Regions from separate parts of the Homo sapiens genome. Here region 2 is linked to region 1. Evidence: fine-mapped expression QTL. A gene starts in region 1. The other region holds a variant in brackets. All regions are shown on one strand. Distances are between the middles of the regions. Region 1 holds the start of PABPC1L (poly(A) binding protein cytoplasmic 1 like). Region 2 overlaps PABPC1L (poly(A) binding protein cytoplasmic 1 like).

Region 1 (10,963 bases):
GTTTTTTTAATCTTCCAAAAAATTATTTAGAAGCAGTAGTGTATATCTTGAATCTCAAACATAGTTTTAACATCTCGTGAATAATTCTAAATTCTTAACAATGTTCATTTTTTAGGAGCTGTTGGACAAATATCTTATTCCCAATGCTACACAACCAGAAAGTAAGGTGTTCTACTTGAAAATGAAAGGAGATTATTTTAGGTATCTTTCTGAAGTGGCATCTGGAGACAACAAACAAAGTAAGTAATATCTTTAAAAAGAAATTCGACCAGTAATGGAGCCAGTCTTCTTTCACAGGGACTTTTTAACGATTTTTGCTTTGTTCGCCATAGACACCAATGTCACAGTACTAAGAATTTAAAAGACCACAGCATTGTGACGAACGGGGTCATGGGCGGGCAAATAAAAATTTATCTGACAGGGAAGTATGGAGGGCATTACAAACCTGGTGCGCAGTGTATTTAAAAAGATCTTATCTTGAGTATTATTTGTTAGCTCTCTTTTTAGCAGTGAACTTTTTATACTTGGTGGTACGAAACTACCCTAGTGATGCATTGCATTTATCACATGTATTACCGTGATGGTGGTAATCTTAACCACACTTTATTAAGTGCTTCTGTGCCAAGTACTTCCGAGTCTCACTTACTCTTCACACAGCCTTACGAGTTAGGTGGCAGGCTGCCCATTTTTCATATAAACTGAGGTTTATGGAGGTTTCTACTTGCCCCAAGCCACAGACCTAGGGAGTAAGAGTTGGGAATTAAAGTTTGGATCTATCGACTCTAAAGCCTGTGATGTTTGCACTAGAATGTATGGTTTTTCACATTCTATATTGTTAAAGGTTATAGCTGTATTTAACTGCTTTAGTAGACTTTGTCATAATTGTTTTCCCCCAAAGCATTTAATATACAACTTGGTTTAGAATAAATATCTAACAAATGTATAATTGAATGGCAGAGACACTGACACTTCATTTGATAGGTCATTGCTCCTGCCCAGTTTGGGACTGAGAAAATAATTTGATAGTTGGTCCAATGTGTGATACCTATGAAAGAACCGAGCCTTTAATATTTTCATCTTTATGTTACAGCCACTGTGTCGAACTCCCAGCAGGCTTACCAGGAAGCATTTGAAATTAGTAAGAAAGAAATGCAGCCTACACACCCAATTCGTCTTGGTCTGGCACTAAATTTCTCAGTCTTTTACTATGAGATTCTAAACTCTCCTGAAAAGGCCTGTAGCCTGGCAAAAACGGTGAGAAAGACCCTTTGTGATATCTAACCATAGCAAAACAGTGCTTGTGTTATTAACTTCATTTTATTCCTGAACATACTCATTGTCTTGGACTTTTTTTGAAAGATTTTCTGGGGGTGGGAGTGTATCTTTTATGAGATAAATACAGATCTGTTACTTTTTTAATTCATTCTCAATACCTTCTGCTGACTTTGTTTGATTACTGTTTTTTGCGGGTGGTTGTAGAAAGTTCCAGGTGAATGTAGTTAGTTGTTTCTTACCAAGCTTTGGGCCTTGGTTATACATTGTCATTCTCATGCCAAGATTTGAGGTTATAGTTGTATAAAAGAAATACACAGCACATTCTTGTTGTGTGTTGGATTACCTTCCATATTCTTCCTTTGGCCTTCTCTACATATTTTTTATAGTCCCTCAACATGCACACAACTTTTTAAAAACATTTTTATTCGGGAAAGGTGCCTTAAAGTTCCGTCACTTAAATCAGATTTAGTGATGTGAGTTTCCAGACATTTTGAGTTTTAGTTTAAATAAATAAATAATTTTAAATAGAAGATTGCTAGAAAAGTCTTTGGTAATTAAAAAATCACACGCGTTTGCCCAGAATGACTGTGCTAGGGTTAGCAGTAATACTGCTTAGTTATTAGGTACAGCAAAGTTCTTACCTTGGAGTTTCTGTCATTGTTGGTTGGTGCTTTGTAAATATGCCTTATACTTCTGCTGGAAACAGCTAACAGACAGGGTAATAATAGCCTAGGTTCCCCCAAAGTACTGTACAAGAAGATAAGTTATATTCACCTAGCGGGAAAAAAAGTGGGCTAAACTAGCTCCAGAGAACTTGTGAATTCTTTGCTAAAGGCTCTTTGTTTTAGGCATTTGATGAAGCAATTGCTGAATTGGATACGCTGAATGAAGAGTCTTATAAAGACAGCACTCTGATCATGCAGTTACTTAGGGACAATCTCACTGTAAGTACTACTTCCACAGGGTTTATAGTCTCTTTCCTATTCACCTACTTAATAATTCACTGTTATCTTCAAGAGGGGATTTGTACCATTAAATGTAGTTACAGTTTTAAGTTGTTAAATTTGTTATAAATGACTGCTGAAGTTTTGACCTTTGCAATCATCCCTGTCTGCAGTGACACAGGAATAATTTTAAACTGTCGAGTGAGATAAGATTATACATACTGGGCCACTTACCTAGGGAACTTTTAGTAGCCCTGCTTTGATTATACTTCCTTTCTCTTGCAGCTGTGGACATCGGAAAACCAGGGAGACGAAGGAGACGCTGGGGAGGGAGAGAACTAATGTTTCTCGTGCTTTGTGATCTGTTCAGTGTCACTCTGTACCCTCAACATATATCCCTTGTGCGATAAAAAAAAAAAAAAAAAAAAAAAGAGAATCGTACGTCGACTTTCGATTTTTCACAGCCTCAGCCTAGGAAAAATGGTTCATGGGATAAACAGCTGGTATTTGTATCTAAAACTCAGATTGGTCACATAAATGCCACGGCATTCCGAAGTTTTGATTTTGATTAACATTGACAGGATTACTGTGTGTTTAATTTTTTAAAAACTGAACACTGTGATTATGGGGTTTTGTAATTTAGCAGAACTCTTACTGGTAGAAAAAATAGACCTGAATTATGTGTAACTTTTTGGAAGGTTTAATCTGATATCAAAATAATCATTGAAATACAATTCCATTGTAAAGTTGTACAGAAAGTTATAGAGATTATATTGTGATGCTGGAACTTGGAGTGAGACACACATCATTTGGCATTTGAGTTGAATGGTAATTCACAGTAATGCTGCCGTTGTTCGGGACTTAAAGACACTTGACCTGTTTGGGCTGTTGCCACTTAAAAGTTCATGACCACAAATGTCCACAGTGTCTTCCTCTGAGGAAACTCGAATCCTGAAATGGAAATTCTTTGTGGCAGATAACTGGCTTATGACACCTTGAAAAGTTCAAGTGCTCATATAACACACCACACTGAACCCCCTTTCCTACAGCAATATGTTCACTATGTTACCAATTTGCAACTTGTGCTTCAATAGTGGAATCTACTTTCATTGTTAACACTGAGCTAAAGAAAAAAAGCCGTGTGTTTTATGAATGACCTTATCTGTTTCCTGGATAATACCTTTAAGAATAATGTCCTGAGTCAGGCGTGGTGGTGCGTGCATCTAGTCCCAACTATTTGGGAGGCTGAGGCAGGAGGATCGCTTGAGCCCAGGAGTTTAAAGCTGCAGTGCCCTGTGGTTGCACCTGTGAATAACTGCACTCCAGCCTGGGCAACATAGCGAGACCTCATCTCCAAAAAAGAAAACAAAAAACAAAAAAAGGAATGATGTTCTGTAGAGATGGCCTTTCACTTGAGGAGTACTCAGTTTTCAGGTTCTTCCTAGCTCGGGGCTTTTAAATTTTGAAATCTAAACATTCTTTCCCACCATCCTTTTTGACTGTTGACCTTGGTTTTCTCTTCTAAGTTTCTGTCCCTCTGCTTCCTTACTTTTTTTCCTTTTTGAATTCTATCTTTATCTGTCTTTTGTTCACTTTTTAATGCTATATATGGGCAGGGGTGAGAGACATTACTGAGCACCTTGGTGAGCAAGCCTGGCTTTAAAGATTGGAGAAGAGCTTCTGGCACCAGAACCCTGTCTTCCTCCAGTTCTCAACACGGTGTTGCTCTTCAGTCATACCGGAATCTGAATCAAAAAAGTATTTTTAAATATCCATGATTTCTCCCTGTATTGAGGCTAGCCCTGATCATGCTTTTTGTGCCTGTCACCAGGTCTCCCAAGTGCACTCATCCAGGTCAGTGCTCAGATGTGTTTAAGGAGACCCTATATTCAGGGAAGTTGCGTGAACACTGCAGTGGGGAGAATTGAGAATAGTCAGGCCTATCAGTCTCACAGAATCACCCCTCTACCTTTGATATTCCACTTAGCTGTAGAGTCCATCTGTTTGTCCATCTGCTGAAATGAGAAAAGAAAAATTTATGCACTGATTTAAAACAAACCAAAAAAAAAGAAAAAAACAAAAAAAAAAATCCCTCCTTTCTAGCTGAACAAAAATGTGCAGTTAATACTTGGCGCTTGAAAATGCAGTAGTGAATGTGGAACCAAGCCTGTCTGTATATCTGGTAGCTCTTTTCTTGCTTTGTTTTTTCTTACCAGTATTCTGCCTAACGTTTGCTTCTGTGATGGTTATATTGCCTAGCAAGCACACCCGTGGTTGTGAAAATAGTATAGCAAAAAAGAAAAATCCCCGGTTATTGATGTACTAGATTTGTGTATGTCTTTTAAACAGTTCTAGTTTCACCTTACACAGAATAATCAGGAAAAGTGTAAAAATTCAAAAGTGAAATAAAAATTTTATCAGTTAGTTGCCTGTGAATTGATGTGTCACCACCATCTCTGTTGTTACCAGACCTAGCTAACTATTCTGATCACACTTATTTTTAACTCTGTTTTCTTTAAAAATAGGCAAACAGTTTTATTTCATTATTTAGGACCAGAAGTCAAGGTGTTATCCAGGGGAAGAAATTACCATTAATTAAACAGCCTCTTTACACCCGTTACTTGATACCTCTCTACCTTCCACAACAAACCATGCAGGTATTAGGTCCTCTTTAGTGACTTCTAAGATTTGGTATGGACAGTTATTTTGCATTGTATTCGAGCCCACCATCCCTTCCCCATTTTTTAACTCTGAGATACAACCAAGCCAGTGAAATAGGTAACCTATGGTTGCATAAGTCTTGGTCATCACCAAGCTGGCGTCTCACCTGTCCTCACACTGTATGGTGGCCTGCAGAGCTGGTTCCTCACAGGATTTGCCCCTTCTGAAAACATCCACATTACCACAAGGAGAGAAAAATATCAGGATAGAGGGGTCTTTTTTAGCCCAAGATTAGAATTAGTGCTTCCTTGCTACTCTGAGGCTGGACAGCCAGATGGGCACCTTCTGTCCCTAGTTTAGGAGCTGTTCCACCTGTTGAAGCCACACTCAACCAAAAGTCAGTGGGGGCCTACCTGCTCTGTTGGATCAGTGAGACCAGGAAAGTCCTATCAGAGGAAAAGTGAAGTATTGGTGCTCAGTGGAGTAGTTGTTTTGTTTTTGTGTTGTTTTTAATGTCCCTATACCACAGATTGACGCTGCAAGCTCAGATTCACAGTCTTGCTCTGTTTAGGTCTTGCTCTGCTATTAGTTCCCAATTGTCCGCATTTAGGCTGAGCCACAAGTAACTCAGTGAACCTCCCTGGTGTAATGGATGTGTAATGGCTTAGCAGAGGGACAGGGAATATCCCAGGAAAAGGGGTCTTGGTAATATGAGCCAGTACCAAGAAAGGCCTTAGTGGTCTCCAGTTCTCATGTCTCAAAGCCATTTCCATCCTTGGTGCGAAACGGTGGGACTGGATCAGGCTCTCTGGAGGAAGACATCTTCAATGGAGCAGGGTAAAATTCTCTACACAAGCTTTGAAACAGTGGCCTGTTCGGAATTCCGTTTGTGTGTGAAACGCAAAAAGCGCGGTTTGGGTCTCCTTTCATTCTTGTCAGGAGGGAATCATTCCCATTTTACAGAGAAGGGAAACGGGTTCAGAAAGATGATCATCTGTTCCGGGGTTAGAACTCAGTCCCCTGCGTCCTTTCCGTCCCAGTCCTCGGCTCTTTCAAAAGAGCTGGGGGTTTTGAGAGCTCCACTCAAGTCCCAGCAGCCCTGCTCAAGGCCAGGTTGAAGGCTTTTTCCGCCTCCCAGGGCGGGGTCAGAGGTGTCCCCACCTGTAGCTTTTAGATCCCCAAGTGCTCGCAGGTGGGGGGTGGGCCCAGGAGGGATCCCGGGGGAGGGGCGTCCGAGCGCGCCCACGATTGGTGCGCAGGGACGCGGGGGCGGTAAAGGGAAGGGGCGGGCCCGCGCCCAGGAAGGAGGGCTTCCGCCCGGGTGAGCGCGGGGCTGCTGGGTGACCCGGCTCCTGCTTGCCCCGCAGCCCCGGCCCCCTGCCCACCATGAACGCCAGCGGTTCTGGCTACCCGCTTGCCTCGCTTTACGTGGGCGATCTGCACCCCGACGTGACCGAGGCCATGCTCTATGAGAAGTTCTCTCCCGCCGGCCCCATCCTGTCCATCCGCGTGTGCCGCGATGTAGCCACCCGGCGCTCGCTGGGCTACGCCTACATCAACTTCCAGCAGCCCGCGGACGGTGAGCCCCGGGGATGGGGCGGGAGGGGAAGGACCGACGGACAAGCAGGCGGACAGACAGAAGCCGGAACTGGGCCGCTTGCGCTTTCATCTTACACTTTGCAGCCGGGGAAACTGAGGCTCAAAGATAACAGGGCGTTGGCAGAGGCCTGGCCCCTGAGACGGGAATTGGTAATTAGTGTGGTTTACTGCTATTCCTCTACAGAGGAGAGAGATTAGGGTCGAGTGAAAACAGATACAGGCTTTGTGGGGGTGGGGGTGGGGGTCAGGCGGACCAGGGATAGAAGCCCAGCAGCCGTGTGACTCTGGGCAAGTTACTCGACCATTCTGAGCTTCAGATGCGTGTCTGGAAAATGGGGGTCCTAGCTGCCTTATAGAGTGCTTGTGAGGATGAGAGATTCAAAGCACCTGGTGAGGAAGATGCCCAAGGCAACACAGCTGGTGAGCAGGGGAGGCAGGAGAACCCAGCCTTGGGCTCAGGCCTTTCCCAGCGCGACGTGAGATCCACACTGGGCGCCTCTACCTGCACGGGCTCTGAAAAACCGCTGCCTCCAGGCCGCAAGGCCGCTTTCTCAGAGCTGATAGCATTGATTAGAGCTTGTCCGATGAGTTTGCCTGCACTTCTGTTGAGAGTGGAGAGGATGAGTGAGCTTGGGCAAGCCTTCACGCTCTGCACCTTTTCATCTGCAAAATGGGGCTAAGGCGTATTCTCCAATAACATAAAGAATGGAGAACTGCTGTCTATGCATAAAGAATGGTAACTGCTTGTTACCTCGTAAACGCTCTTAAGTGGTAACCTAAAATAAATAAATAAATAAATAAATAAATAAATAAATAAATAAATAAGGCCAGGCGCAGTGGCTCACGCCTGTAATCCCAGCATCTTAGGAGGCCGAGGTGGGCAGATCACTTGAGGTCAGGAGTTCGAGACCAGCCTGGCCAACATAGCGAAACCCTTTCTCTACTAAAAATACAAAAAATAGCTGGGCATGATGGCGGACGCCTGTAATCCCAACTGCTGGGGAGGCTGAGGCACGAGAATCGCTTGAATCCGGGAGGCAGAGGTTGCAGTGAGCCGAGACTGCGCCATTGCACTCCAGCCCGGGCAACAGAGCGAGACTCCATCTCAACACAAAACAAAACAACAAACAAAAAAGAAACAACAACGAAAATAGTGGCTTTAACATTCTGATGTAAGACTCCAGAAACTCACCCAAAAAATGGCCGGCGTCCACTAGAGGGATCCCTTGCGCCAGGTCGCCTGGGTGAACCTGGTGGTTGCCTGAGTGGGTGGTTTGCTAGGGAAGGGGTTGTTCCGCCGGGCCTGTTCCCCGCCCCTTACTGGGCTGGATTCCTGGGCACTTTTCTGTTTGTTCTGCTTTGCTCCACCTCCTGCCTCTTCCCATCTTCCTCCAAGCCCTGTGAATGAAGTGGGACTCGGCCTGGAAACCGTGCTGCAGAGAGAAGGGTTTTGCCCCAGGTATTTATGATAAGACTAGGTGGAGAATCCGGGCTTCCTGAAACTTGCTCCACTGTGTTCCCCACAGCCCCCTTCCATGTCTCTGCACTAGCAGACTCCCTGAAACAGGTCACGTGTATCACCCAGGAGAGACACAGGCTGCAGCAGTGGCCGGAGGCTGGGCATCGGCTGCTGTTTTGAGACATTATTTTGTGTCAGGCACAAAGTTACAAACAAGGCACTTTTACATACCTTCTTTATTTTTCAGTCCCTCCAACAACCTGGTAGTTGGTAGTATCTCCCTTTGTTAGGTGTGGAAAAGTAGGTAATATTACCATCATTCCCCCTTTACAGGTGAGGAACAGGCTCAGAGAGGTAATGTCCACTTTCCCCAGAGCCGGACTGCTTGAGATCTAACCTCAGCTCTGCCCTGCAGCACCTCTGAGTTTTAATTTCCTCAAAGTGCTGCCACCCCTTGTCATATGGACATTGTTATCCACTCAGTGTACTTTAGAATCCAGAATAGACCTGACGCTGCCACAGACCTTTCATGTTTCTTATTCTCAGTTTTCCCATCTGTAAAATGAGGGGCAGGAATCCATGCTCATGTGGCTGCAGGGAGTTGGTTGAATGAGATCATAACTGGAAGGTTGGGGGAGCACCATACACACTAATTCTCAGCTTATCCTTCCTGAGCCTTTGGGCTCTTATCTCAGTTATTTGGGCTCTTATCTTGGCTTATTGTCTGGGACCCAGACAATGACTTTCTCTTTATTGGCTCCCAGTTAAGCACCTCGAGGGGTGGGTGATCAAGGTAAGAAAATTCCCTAAACTTGCTAATTTCTCTCCTCTTCCTTCTGTCCAGCGGAGCGGGCACTGGACACAATGAACTTTGAGATGCTCAAAGGCCAGCCTATTCGCATCATGTGGTCCCAGCGAGACCCAGGACTTCGCAAGTCAGGTGTGGGCAACATCTTCATCAAGAACCTGGAGGACTCCATTGACAACAAGGCTTTATATGATACCTTCTCCACCTTTGGGAACATCCTCTCTTGCAAGGTAGAGGATGAAGGGTGTACGTCTTTGGGTAGATCGGTGTCAACTACCTGCCTGGTAGAGGGGTGACAAGCAACACCTCACTTTACAGTTTACAAGGTCCTTTCAGTCAAGTTTCAGGTACAGCAAGCACCTGAATGACAGCCGTTCTTTCAGTTTCATCTTCCGTGAATGACCAGACATTACCTGTGTATCAGTCAGCTCTCGCTGTGTAACCACCTTCAAATTTAGTGGCCGTCAACAACAATCATTTATTTAGCTAATAATTCCACAGTTGGCAATGGGCAAAGTTCAGCTGGGCAGTTCTTCTGGTCTTGGCTGGGTTCCCTCCTATGCCCACTGAAAGCTGAGTGGGAGCTCTCGCTGGGTATATGAGGGAGCGACTGGCTGTCAGCTGGAACATCTTGGCTTTCCTCCCTATGGCCTTTTGTCCTCCAGTAGGCTAGTCCAGGCTATTCTCATGGTATTCTCATGGCAATGGCAGGGGCTCAGAAGACAAGAGTGGAAGCACACCAGGCCTCTTGAGAACTAAATGCAGAACTGGAACCATCACTTCCACTACGTTTTTTTTTTTTAATTGAGATGCAGTCTTACTCTGTTGCCTAGGCTGGAGTACAGTGGCATGATCTCAGCTTACTGCAACTTCCTGGGTTCAAGCCTCCTGAGTTCAAACGATTCTCCTGCCTCAGCCTCCCGAGTAGCTGGAATTACAGGTGCGAGCCACCATGCCTGGATAATTTTTGTATGTTTAGTGGAGACAGGGTGGGTTTCACTGTGTTGGCCAGGCTGGTCTCGAACTCCTGACCTCCCAAAATGCTGGGATTACAGCCATGAGCCACCGCACCTGGCCTCTTTCACTACATTCTATTGACCAAAGCAAGTCACAAGACCAGCCCACATTCAGAGTGAGAGGGGAGTAGAAATTATAGGATGAAGGGTGTGGCTACAGGAAGGCCATTAATTGGGGCCATCAAGGCAATTAAGTTATTGAATCTTGTTTTTAAGATTGTCTTACATTAGATGTAAGTTCCATCAGTGATCTTGTTCTTAGTCATTATTGTATCCCAATACTTAGAATAAGATGTGAAACATATTAGGTGCTCAATAAATATATGTTGAGCCAGTGGAGGTATGTCATTTGAGAAGGATTCTGATTATTTCTCTGACTTTTTATATGAGGATGTTGAGGATCAGCGGCCATATAGCAGGTCAGTATGTCTGGAACAGAGGGCTTAAACCTGGGTGTTCTGTCTCTAGATTTTATAAGGATAGTTGATCAGTTACCCCGTAGCCTTTGGAGTGTCTGCTATTCTAGGGAGGATGGGGACAGTTTTTGTAGCCTATGTGTCAGAACTTTTTTTTTTTTTTTTTTTTGAGACGGAGTCTCACTCTGTTGCCCAGGCTGGAGTGCAGTGGCGCGATCTCAGCTCACTGCAACCTCCTCCTCCCAGGTTCACGCCATTCTCCTGCCTCAGCCTCCTGAGTAGCTGGGACTACAGGTGCCCGCCACCACGCCCAGCTAATTTTTTTTGTATTTTTAGTAGAGACGGGGTTTCACCGTGTTAGCCAGGATGGTCTCGATCTCCTGACCTTGTGATCCGCCCGCCTCAGTCTCCCAAAGTGCTGGGATTACAGGCGTGAGCCACTGCACCTGGCATGTCAGAACTTTTATCAAGTGCTACTGTGTGCCAAGCATAATCCTTAAGTTCTCAACGAGGGCTCTCAAATTCCCAGTCAATAAGAGGCTATCCCTGTGGCTCAGAGGAGCAGGTAGACTTGAGGAGATGTAGTAATGCACTAAGGGTTATCTGTGACAGAGAGACGGGGCTGTTTCCTGTCTTTGAGGATCAAAGGAAGAAAGACTCTTAACTGTGTATTAAGTTCTTCACAATAATAATGGCAGATTTATCATGTACTTTCTGTGTGTTAGGTTTTCTGCATACATGTATACTCCTTAAAAGGGTACCTGGCATACTGTTAAGCTTCTAAG
Region 2 (11,443 bases), 22 kb after region 1:
TTTAAGATGATGATCCAGTGTTTCTTCATTCTATACTTAAATACCTGCTGTTTTACCAGGCTCTGTGGGAAACAGGAGCAAATCAGATGTGATCCTTGCTTTCAAGTAGCTTATAGTCTAGTGAGGAAGTCAGCCCGTCACTAACTCAAATGGATTATAAGATGGGGGACAGTATGGGAGGCAAAGCTACAGGAGTTCAGTGGAACAGAAGGGAAGGCTGCCTGGAAGAAGTGGCAGTAGCAGCAGTGTTTGACTTGGCTGTGAGGAGGTAGGGAGCTGGAGTGGGAATGAGGAATTTTCCAAAGAGATCAGTGTGAGTGACAGGATGGGGGGACCCGCCTGAATGATGTGATGTTGGGTTCTGAGGAAGTGGTCTAGAAGTTCTCTTTTGGCTACTGAGTCCAGTTGTAAACATCCTTCAGGGAGCCTTGTGTTTGGAGGAAAAAAGGTTGTCTTTTAGGTTAAGATCCTTTTGAAAAATGCGAGAGAAGGCTGTGGCACATGTAAATTAGGCATCAGTAAATTTGATTACACATCATAAAAAGCTATAGGTCCTCTTTCCAAGCAAATGCATATACATTTGATGTAGAAACATGGTTGAAAGCTGGAATTTTAAAGTTAATCAGGTTTAAATGTAAACCCCAGTCCTACCATTACCTAGCTGTAGAAACTGAGGCAAGTGGCTTTGCTTTTCGGACCTTGTTTACTCACCTATAAAGTGGGAGCAACATTTCTCACCTCTCCAGGTGTCCTAAGAACTACTAAAGAGGCTGCATGTACAGCATCTGCATTCAATAAGTAGTGAAATAGTGATTGTCGTAATGATTCATCATACACCTTGCATACAGCTTCAGGAGATGGACCTTCTTGAGGACTCCCCGAACAAAGGAAATGTGTAAATTTGGATTGCTTAGAGTTAAGGCACACCTGGGGTGACCATCTTTTTAACAGGACAAACGGTATAAAATGGGGATTATAAATATATCTATTTTTTGTGTGTGTGATGGAGTCTAGCTCTGTTGCCCAGGCTAGAGTGCAGTGGCGCCATCTCGGCTCACTACAACCTCCGCCTCCCGGGTTCAAGTGATTCTTCTCCCTCAGCCTCCTGAGTAGCTGGGATTACAGGCACCTGCCACCATGCCCAGCTAATTTTTGTATTTTTAGTAGAGACGGGGTTTCACTGTGTTGGCCGGGCTGGTCTCAAACTCCTGACCTAGTAATCCGCCCGCCTCAGCCTCCCAAAGTGCTGCAATTACAAGAATGAGCCACCACGCCCAGCCTACATATATATATATATTATACAATTATTTATTTATTTTGAGATAGAGTTTCCTTCTTGTCGCCCAGGCTGGAGTGCAATGGCGCGATCTTGGCTCACTACAACTTCTGCCTCCCAGGTTCAAGCAATTCTCCTGCCTCAGCCTTCTGAGTAGCTGGGATTACAGGCGCCCGCCACCAAGCCCTACTAATGTTTGTATTTTTAGTAAAGATGAGGTTTCACCATGTTAGCCAGGATGGTCCTGAACTCTTGACCTCAGGTGATCTGCCCGCCTTGGCCTCCCAAAGTGCTGAGATTATAGGCGTGAACCACTGTGCCTGGCCTATGTTATGCGATTTTATATATTTTGGTTTATTATTATTTTTTATTAGATGCAGGTTCTTATTCTGTTGCCCAGGCTGGAGGGCCATGATGTGATCATGGCACGCCACAACCTCAACCTCCTGGGCTCAAGTGATCCTCCCACCTGAGCCTCCTAAGTAGCTGGGACCACAGGCATGTGCCACCATGCCCAGCTGATTTAAAAAAAAATTTTTTTTTGGTAGAAATTGGGAGTCTTGCTGTGTTGTCCAGGCTTGTCTTGAACTCCTGGGCTCAAGCAGTCCTCCTACCTCAGCCTCCCAAAGTGCTGGGATTATAGGCATGAGCCACTGCATCTGGCCTGTATTTTGTTTTATATAAAAATAATTATGAAAATTAAAGGAATTAATGGATATAAATACTTATACCACTATCAAGTTCATGGTAAGCTCTGCATAAGTGTTAGCTTTGCTAAATTTTATCATTATTAACTACCGACTGCCAGAAGTTCTTAACAATATATATATATTTTTTTTTTTTTGAGATGGAGTTTTGCTCTTGTTGCCCAGGCTAGAGTGCAATGGTGCAATCTTAGCTCACTGTAACCTTTGCCTCCTGGGTTCAAGTGATTCTCCTGCTTCAGCCTCCTGAGTAGCTGGGATTACAGGCGCCTCTCACCATGCCCAGCTAATTTTTTGTATTTTTAGTAGAGATGGGGTGTCACTATTTTGGCCAGGCTGGTCTCGAACTTCTGACCTCAGGTGATCCACCTGCCTCAGCCTCCCAAAGTGCTAGGATTACAGGCGTGAGCCACTGTGCCCGGCCCTTTGGCTATCTGATGAAGCCTGTGGAACCCTTCTAAGAATATTTTTTAAAAACTTTTTTGAGACAGAGTCTCGCTCTATCACCCAGGCTGGAATGCAGTGGTGCCATCACAGCTCACTGCAGCCTCCAACTCCTGGCCTCAAGTGATCTCCTGTCTCAGCCTCCCAAGTAGCTGAGACTATAGGAGCACCACTATGCCTGGATAATTATTTTTTATATTACCCAGGCTGGTCTCAAACCCCTGGGCTCAAGCAATTCTTCCGCCTCTGCTTCCCAAAAATAGGCATGAGCCACCAAACCTGGCCCTAAGAATATTTTTAAATGCATAAAATAAGATTCTTAGGTGTACAAAAAAATCATACTGAAAAAATATAATGGTCAAAATACTAAAGTGAAAGCAGTATGTGCTTCTTTTATTATTTTTATTTTTATTTTTTTGAGACGAAGTCCCACTCTGTCGCCCAGACTGGAGCGCAGTGGCATGATCTTGGCTCACTACAACCTCTGCCTCCCAGGTTCAAGAACCTGGGTTCTGCCTCAACCTCCTGGGAAGCTGAGATTACAGGCACCCGCCACCATAACCAGCTAATTTTTGTATATTTTTAGTAGAGATGGGGTTTCACCATGTTGGCCAGGCTGGTCTCGAACTCCTGACCTCAGGTGATCTGCCCACCTTGGCCTCCCAAAGTGCTGGGATTACAGGCATAAGCCATTGCGCTCGGCTGAGATTAGCAATAATTAATGTGATATGAAAATATTTTCTTTTTCTTCATGACAAATTCATGGCTAATACTGCCAGGATTTTTTTGTTGTTGCCCATATTCATAATAGAAGGAAATGCTAATATGAAAATAAAGATGTCACTTTTTCCCCAATCCATGCAATTTCCCCCTAAATTGTATCCATGACCTACCTGAGGGGGATCCATGGACTCTCAGGTTAAGACCCCTCTACTGAAGGGTAGCAGAGTACAGTTTCAAAATTACTGATTAAGAGCGTGGGCTCACCAGGAGTTCAAGCCCAGCCGGGGCAACAGGATGAGACCTCATCTTTACAAAAAATGAACAAAATTAGGCATGGTGGTGCTTGTCTGCAGTCCCAGCTACTTGGGAGACTGAGTTGAGAGGATCACTTGAGGCTGAGAGGTTGAGGGTGCAGTTGAGCTGAGATTGCACCACTGCACTCCAGCCTGAGTGACAGAGTGAGATCCTGACTCAAAAAAAAAAAAAAAAAAAAAGAAAAAAAAAAAGGAAAAAAAGAAGATTTTAAAAATAACTCTAGTCCTTATGGGCTGTATGAGCCAGGCCGGTGTCTTCACCCTAAAAAAAGGTTAAAAACCCAGGGCCAGGTGTGGTGGCTCCTGCCTGTAATCCCTGCACCTTGGGAGACCTAGGTAGGAGGATCTCTTGAGACCAGCCTGGGCAACATAGTGATTGCTGATCTCTACAAACTTAAAAAAAAAAATTAGCTGGGTGTGGTGGCATGTACCTATAGCCCTAACTACTTGAGAGGCTGAGGCAGGAGGATCCCTGGAGCCCGGGAGTTTGAGGCTGCAGTGAGCTATGATCATACCACTGCACTCCAGCCTGGATGACAGAGTGAGACCCCATCTCTTTAAAAAACAAACAAATAAACAAAAAGACAAACCCTAAATGCCATGTGGGTTGGATCCTGGAAGAGAAAAAGAATATTAGGGGAAAAAAGAGTGAAATTCCAGTGAAGTCTGGAGTTCAGTTAATAGCATTGTAGTTAATAGGAGCTAATGGTATAAAATAGTTAATAGCATTGCACCAGTGTTAATTTTGTAGTTTTGAAAAATGTACCATGTTCACATTGGGGGAAACTGGGTGAAAGATATACAGCAGGCCAGGCATGGTGGCTCACGCCTGTAATCCCAGCACTTTGGGAGGCTGAGGCAGGCAGATCACTTGAGGTCAGGAGTTTGAGACCAGCCTGGCCAACATGGTGAAACCCTCTCTCTACTGAAAATACAAAAATTAGCCAGGTGTGGTGGCACACGCCTGTAGTCCCATCTACCCAGGAGGCTAAGGCAGGAGAATTGCTTGAACCCGGGAGGCTGAGGTTGCAGTTAGCCGAGATCGTGCCACTCCACTCTAGCCTGAGTGACAGAGTGAAACTATGTCTCAAAAAAAAAAAAAAAGATATATAGCAACCCTCTGTACTGTTTTTGTAACTTTTTCTGTAAATCTAAAGTTACTCCAAAGTAAAAAGGTTATTTTAACAAAAAGGCTAAGAACCTCTTCCCCAAATTCCTAAAGAACTTGGCTTGGTACTTAGCAGAGGCGATAGAAGCTTACCAGAACAATGTGTTGGGTTGAGTCCTGGCTAACGTATGAACCACAGGCTGAGTGACCCCAGACAAGTCACTCTTTCGAGTCTCTCTTATCCCGGCTGTAAAGTGGGAGCCGCGATGCCTCCCGCATCGGGAGGTTGTACATGTGAGGTGTGAAGACATGTAAAGTATCTGGCATGCAGCAGGCCTCATAGATGGGGGTGCGTGCTGCATCCCTCAAACAGCTCAGTAAACAGGGTGCACGCTACATCCCTCCATCACTCCTCAGTAAATGGGGGTGCACGCTACATCCCTCCATCACAGCTTGCTAAACGGGGGTGCACACTACATCCCTCGAACACAGCTTAGTAAACAGGGGTGCACGCTACATCCCTCCATCACAGCTTTCTCGCGGGCCTGCCCAGTGCTGGGCTTAGCCCATGGGGAGGAGGGAGGCAGCGCAGCCCCAGGAGCCTTCCTTCCCCACCCCAGCAGCTCTTGTCTTGTCTTGCTTTTAGGTGATGACAGAGGGTGGCCACAGCAAGGGGTTTGGCTTTGTGTGTTTTTCCTCCCCAGAAGAGGCGACAAAGGCCGTGACAGAGATGAACGGGCGCATCGTGGGCACCAAGCCACTCTACGTGGCACTGGCCCAGCGCAAAGAGGAGCGGAAGGCCATCTTGACCAACCAGTACATGCAGCGCCTCTCCACCATGCGGACCCTGAGCAACCCCCTCCTGGGCTCCTTTCAGCAGCCCTCCAGCTACTTCCTGCCTGCCATGCCCCAGGTGACGGCCTGCCCGCAACTCCCACCGCAGCCTTCCCCCCTGCCCCAGCAAGGCAGAGCATGAAGACTAGAGTTCTAGGGAAATGGAGGTTTCTAACTTGCTTCTGCCGAGGACTCATTAGGAAGTCTTTGTTTCCCTCTCTATAAAAGGGAGAGATAGTGTTAGTCAAATGGCATTTCCCAGTGAGAGAAGCTCGTGAATGTTGTGCTGAAAAAGACTCTTAATGATCCAGCAAGTTTGGGAAATGCTGCGTTAAGCAAGACCTACATTTTTCCTTCCTCCCTTCCTTCCCTTCCCTCCCTTCCCTCCCTTCCCTCCCTTCCCTTCCCTTCCCTTCCCTCCCTCCCTCCCTCCCTCCCTCCCTTCCTTCCTTCCTTCCTTCGTGGGGTCTCCATGTCACCCAGGCTGGTGAGCAATGGCGTGATCATGGCTCCTTCCTTCTTCCCTCCCTTCCTCCCTTCCTCCCTTCCTTCACGGGGTCTCCATGTCACCCAGGCTGGAGAGCAATGGCATGATCATGGCTCACTGCAGCCTTGAATTCCTGGGCTTGAGTGATCCTCCCACTGTAGCCTCCTGAGTAGGTGGGACTACAGGTGTGTGCCACCATGCCCAGCTAATTTTTTTGTTTATTTTAAAGAAGGGGTCTCGCCATGTTGCCCAGGCTGGTCTCAAACTCCTGGGCTCAAGCAATTCTCCTGCCTTGGCCTCCCAAAGTGCTGGCATTACAGGAGTAAGCCACCGTCCCCCGCCCTACATTTTTTTAAAAATTAAATTTTTATTTTTTTGGAGACAGAGTCTTGCTCTGTTGCCCAGAATGGAGTGCAGTGACACCATCTTGGCTCGCTGCAAACTCTTCCTCCTGGGTTCAAGTGATTCTTGTGCCTCAGCCTCCCGGGTAGCTGGGATTACAGGTGCGTGCCACCACACTCAGCTAATTTTTTGTATTTTTAGTAGAGACGGGGTTTCACCATGTTGGCCAGGCTGGTCTTGAACTCCTGACCTCAAGTGATGTGCCCTCCTTGACCTCCTAAAGTGCTGGGATTACAGGCATGAGCCACCATGATCGGCCCTAAATTTCTTTACTATCTACACTATTCTACCCTAAGATGCCAATGTCTACTGAGACTCTCCAAAACAGGCACAGATTATCCAGCATTTCCCCAGCTTAGATGGTCATTTTTTTGTGGGATGCCTGTTAACATCTCCCCTGGATGTTAATGTTCTGAGGAGCATGGTTTGGGAAAGGACCTCGTGGGACTTACAGGAAGTAGAAAGATGTCACCCATTAAAGGCCACCA[C/T]GGTAAGAACATTCCTCTCCTTTTAGCAGTTGCTTAAGCTGCACAAGTTGGAGTAAGATGTCACCCTTTTTATCCAGGTCATTGGGTTAGCTGACAGGGAGCCAAGATTGAAATCTAAGATCTTTGCCCTGCAGGATTCAGGGCTAATGGACATCCTGAGATGGGAGGAAGGAGCTTTCATTACAGCCTTGTGGGTCTTGACTCACCAGTCCCTGCAGGAGCCAGTGGAGTTCCTGCCATGGTGTCCCTGAGGAGGTGTAGCTTCTCACCTACCCTGCCGCCAAGCCCCTCAGTCTGGGTCTTCTTTTCCCATGCAGCCTCCAGCCCAGGCTGCATACTATGGCTGTGGCCCAGTGACACCCACCCAGCCTGCCCCCAGGTGGACATCCCAGCCACCTAGACCTTCCTGTGAGTGACCCAGCCCCTTCCACTCTCAGACTGGCCTATTGGTGTGGGCCCCGTGAGGCAGTCATAACACAGGGATGAAACCTGGCTCTGCCACTTCCCAAGGTGGGTGACTTCACTTCTCTGAGCCTCAGTTTCCTCTTCTGAGCATGGGCCTGAATGAGACGTGTGTAAAGTACCAAGCACAGTGGTGAGCCAATGGAAGACACGCAGCTAGCCACCAGCAGTCATCACCAAAGATGCCTCTGATTTGTGACTCTGAAAATTCTTGCAAAGCTGAGAAGGTGAAATTCCTCTGGCTATATTGTTGACCAAAGGCCCTCCTCTGTAAGAGTGAATTGCACGCTCACTTGAAACTATCTTGAGGGACTAAGGTGTACAATCCTGGTGCTTATGCAGTTTGGGGCTCTAGGTAGACACGAGCTGGCTTTGAAATTGTAGATTCCTACACTCCCCCTTTCTGGAGTTCTGGGTCTAAGTGAATTGACTCCTATTTCTGTTGTGAATGTTGTAGTTTCCCTTCCCATTCTCTTGGTGGCCCTGGAAGCTTCTAGGCACAGTGTGCCACCCTGATTATTCCCACCACTCCATCCAACTTTTCTCTCTCTGTGGTGTCTGCACCACAAGCTGCCTACCCTCCAGGTGCCTCAATGGTCCGGCCACCAGTTGTGCCTCGGCGCCCCCCGGCCCACATCAGCAGTGTCAGGCAGGCCTCCACCCAGGTGCCACGCACGGTGCCTCATACCCAGAGAGTAGGTGAGTGTGGGTAGGGCCAAGGGGAATGGGGGTGGGGCAAAGTTGGCACTAGGAGTCAGGACCAGCCTCCATGGTGACCTTGCCATATGCCCTCTCGGTGAGCAAAGCTGACTTTGGAGACTGTAGCGTGGTAGTTAGCTTGGCCTCCAGTTCCTGGGACCAACTGACTATGAGGCCCTTGCTGACTACTATATCTGTCACCTAATCTTTAAAATGGGGACAAAAATAGTACCCCCATTTTATTGTAGAGAATTTAAATGTTTTTTTTTTTCTTTTTGAGGCAGAATTTCATTCTTGTTGCCCAGGCTGGAGTGCAATGGCATGATCTCTGCTCACTGCAACCTCCGCCTCCCAGGTTCAAGCGATTGTCCTGCCTCAGCTTCCCAAGTAGCTGGGATTGTAGGCATGCGCCACCATGCCTGGGTAATTTTGTGTTTTTAGTAGAGACGGGGTTTCTCCATGTTGGTCAGGTTGGTCTTGAACTCCTGATCTCAGGTGATCCGCCCACCTCAGCCTCCCAAAGTGCTGAGATTACAGGCATGAGCCACTGTGCCCAGCCTTAATTTTTTTTTTTTTTTTTTTTGAGATCGAGTCTTGCTCTGTCGCCCAGGCTGGAGAGTAATGGTGTGATCTCGGCTCACTGCAACCTCTGCCTCCGGGGTTCTAAGCGATTCTCCTGCCTCAGCCTCCTGAGTAGCTGGGATTACAGGCATGCGCCACCATACTTGGCTAATTTTTGTATTTTTAGTAGGGACAGGGTTTCACCATGTTGGCCAGGCTGGTCTCGAACTCCTGACCTTAGGTGATCCACCAGCCTCGGCCTCCCAAAGTGCTGGGATTACAGGCATGAGCCACCATGCCCGGCTTGTTGTTGAGGATCAATGAGATCATGCATGAAAGGGCTTAGCACTGGGCCTAAAGCCTGGTAAGTATTGCAGTGACTATAAACAAGGGTGTAGGTTTTGGCTGTACAGCAAGCACATCTGTTCTTTCATTCTGCAAATGTTCTCACATCCACAGTGTGCTGGGGCCCCAAGCTCAGCACTGGAGGTTCTGCGTGAACGAGGTATACTCAGTCTCTGGCCTTAGGTTGCTGCCAGGCCCTGACACCCCTGCTTATTCCTTTTTATTGTGGTAAAATACACATAACAAAATTTACCACTTAACTATTTTTCAGTGTACAGATCAATGGCATTAAGTATATTCACACTGTTGTGCACTGTCACCACCATCCACTCTCCAGAACTCTGTTCAGCTTGTAGAGCCGAAATTCTGTACCCATCAAACCATAACTTCTCGTTCCTCCTCCCGCTAGCCCTTGGCAACTGCCATTCTACTTTGTCTCTGTGAATTTGACTGTTCTTGCTTGGTACCTCATGTAAGTAGAATCATAGAGTATTTGTCTTTTTGTGGCTAGTTTTTTTACTTTACATGTCTCAGGATGTATCTATGTTGTGGCGTGTGTCAGAATCTCCTTATTAAGGCTAAATAATATTCCATTGTATGTATAGACCTCATTTTTACTTATTCATTCATCTATCAATGGACACTTTTCTACCCTTTGGGTATTGTGAATAATGCTGCTGTGAAAATGGTTGTGCAGGCTGGGCGTGATGGCTTACGCCTGTAATCCCAGCACTTTGGGAGGCTGAGGCAGGTGGATCATGAGGTCAGGAGTTCGAAACCAGCCTGACCAACATGGTGAAACCCTGTCTCTACTAAAAATACAAAAATTAGCCGGACGTGGTGGCATGTGCTTGTAATCCCAGCTACTTGGTAGGCTGAGACAAGAGAATTGATTGAACCCAGGAGGGGGAGGTTGCAGTGAGCCGAGATAACACCACTGCACTATAGCCTGGGTGACAGAGCAAGACTCTGTCTCAGGAAAAAAAAAAAAAAGAAAGAAAATGTTTGTACAAATAGCTCTTTGAAACCCTGCTTTCAATTCTTTTGGGTATATACCCAGAGGTAAAATTGATGGATGATATGGTAATTCTGTTTAACTGTTTGAGAAAGCCCTATACTGTTTTTCTGTAGTGGCTACATCATTTTACATTCCTACCAACAGTGCACAGTCTTCTAATTTCTTTACATTCTTGTCAACGCTTGTTATTTTCTGTTTTGGTGTTGTTTTGTTTTGTTTTGTTTTTGGATAGCAGCTATTTGAACTCTGCTTTTTTTGTTTTGTTTTGTTTTGTTTTGCAGCCAACATTGGTACTCAGACCACAGGACCCAGTGGGGTAGGATGCTGTACACCAGGCCGGCCGCTCCTGCCGTGCAAATGTTCCTCAGCAGCACATAGCACCTATCGGGTAAGGCCAGCCCAGCTGCCTGCTCTTAGCCTGGGCTCCTGGCCGCCTGGCTCAGAACCTTAGCTAAGGTGTTGGGCCTTGGCTTTTTTTCTTTTCTTGGCTTGTAAAGTTTCGTTTATTAATGTGTACAATCAATAAGAGATCACCCTTACTGCGAGAAGGGGAAAGAGGGCCAGCATTACGTTTTATTTACAATTTGTTTTGCTTCGGTTATTACCAAAATTAATTTGGATATCCTTAGTATTTGTGATGAACACCAAGGAAAGGTATTCTAAGAATATGCTGATTATTGAAGGGATGTACTTAATCTTCAAAACAGAAAATACTTACTGTAATCAAAGACTGTGTATTTATCTCCCTCCCCTAAAAAAGGCCTAAAATTCAGCATTATCATATCCTGTGTAGAATTTCAATGTGTCTCTTTTGAACTATTTCCTGCAAAATGAATGAGAACAGTCTTTAAACAGCAAAAATGTCTATTTTTTTTTTTGGACAGGGTCTTTTTTTTGACAGCACCCAGGTTAGAGTGCAGTGGTGTGATCATAGCTCACTGCAGCCTTGAACTCCTAGGCTCAAGTGATCCTCCCACCTCAGCCTCCAAGTACAGGCATGTGACACCATGCCTGGTTAATTTTGTGTATTTTTTTGTAGTGACAGGGGTCTCATTATGTTGCCAAGGCTGATCTCAAACTCCTGGCCTCAAGCGATCCTCCCACTTTGGCCTTCCAAAGTTCTAGGATTATAGGTGTGAGCCACCACACCTGGCCAAAATGTTTTAAAATTACCAAGATGTGAAAGGGTGAGAGGTGTGCCGGGGACATGTCCATAAATCTACTTGATAAAAAGTGCTTTATTTGGCACAAAGTTATTGGTAACACAGGGCTTTCCTTTATCAACGTTCATCAGGGACCTTTATAAGTTCGTAGCACTACAGGAAACGTCTAAGCTAGAGGCATGACTTTGTCTTCTAATCCACTTTGCCCTTGTTGGGGACTCTCCACCCCACCTGATCATCCAGACCTTGCCCTCTGTTCCCCTCCTCCAGTGCCTCCCTGGCCTTCTGCTCACTTGCCAGGGTAAGTATTTTGAGGACATGCCTGTCCATGGTGATTAAGGGATGTGTCCCCGGCACCATGCAGGTCCAGGAGCCGGCTGTGCACATCCCAGGACAGGAGCCCCTGACCGCGTCC

The links.
Region 2: its variant is fine-mapped to the expression of PABPC1L in whole blood (INTERVAL, PIP above 0.99).

Annotation. Positions count from the first base shown.
Region 1 is chr20:44,903,878-44,914,840 of GRCh38, forward strand. PABPC1L (poly(A) binding protein cytoplasmic 1 like) reads left to right here and starts at 6,183. Exons shown (of 15, transcript NM_001372179.1): 1 at 6,183-6,459; 2 at 8,783-8,976. The coding sequence starts at 6,267. YWHAB (tyrosine 3-monooxygenase/tryptophan 5-monooxygenase activation protein beta) reads left to right here. Exons shown (of 6, transcript NM_139323.4): 3 at 116-239; 4 at 1,091-1,254; 5 at 2,124-2,219; 6 at 2,505-4,655. The coding sequence ends at 2,561. RefSeq lists a silencer at 6,037-6,366.
Region 2 is chr20:44,925,245-44,936,687 of GRCh38, forward strand. It overlaps PABPC1L (poly(A) binding protein cytoplasmic 1 like), which reads left to right. Exons shown (of 15, transcript NM_001372179.1): 8 at 5,216-5,482; 9 at 7,098-7,188; 10 at 7,813-7,941; 11 at 10,147-10,253; 12 at 11,393-11,443. Among named protein-coding and RNA genes, the nearest start is that of PABPC1L, 21 kb to the left of the region's middle. The variant C/T (reference allele first, on the strand shown) is at 6,781.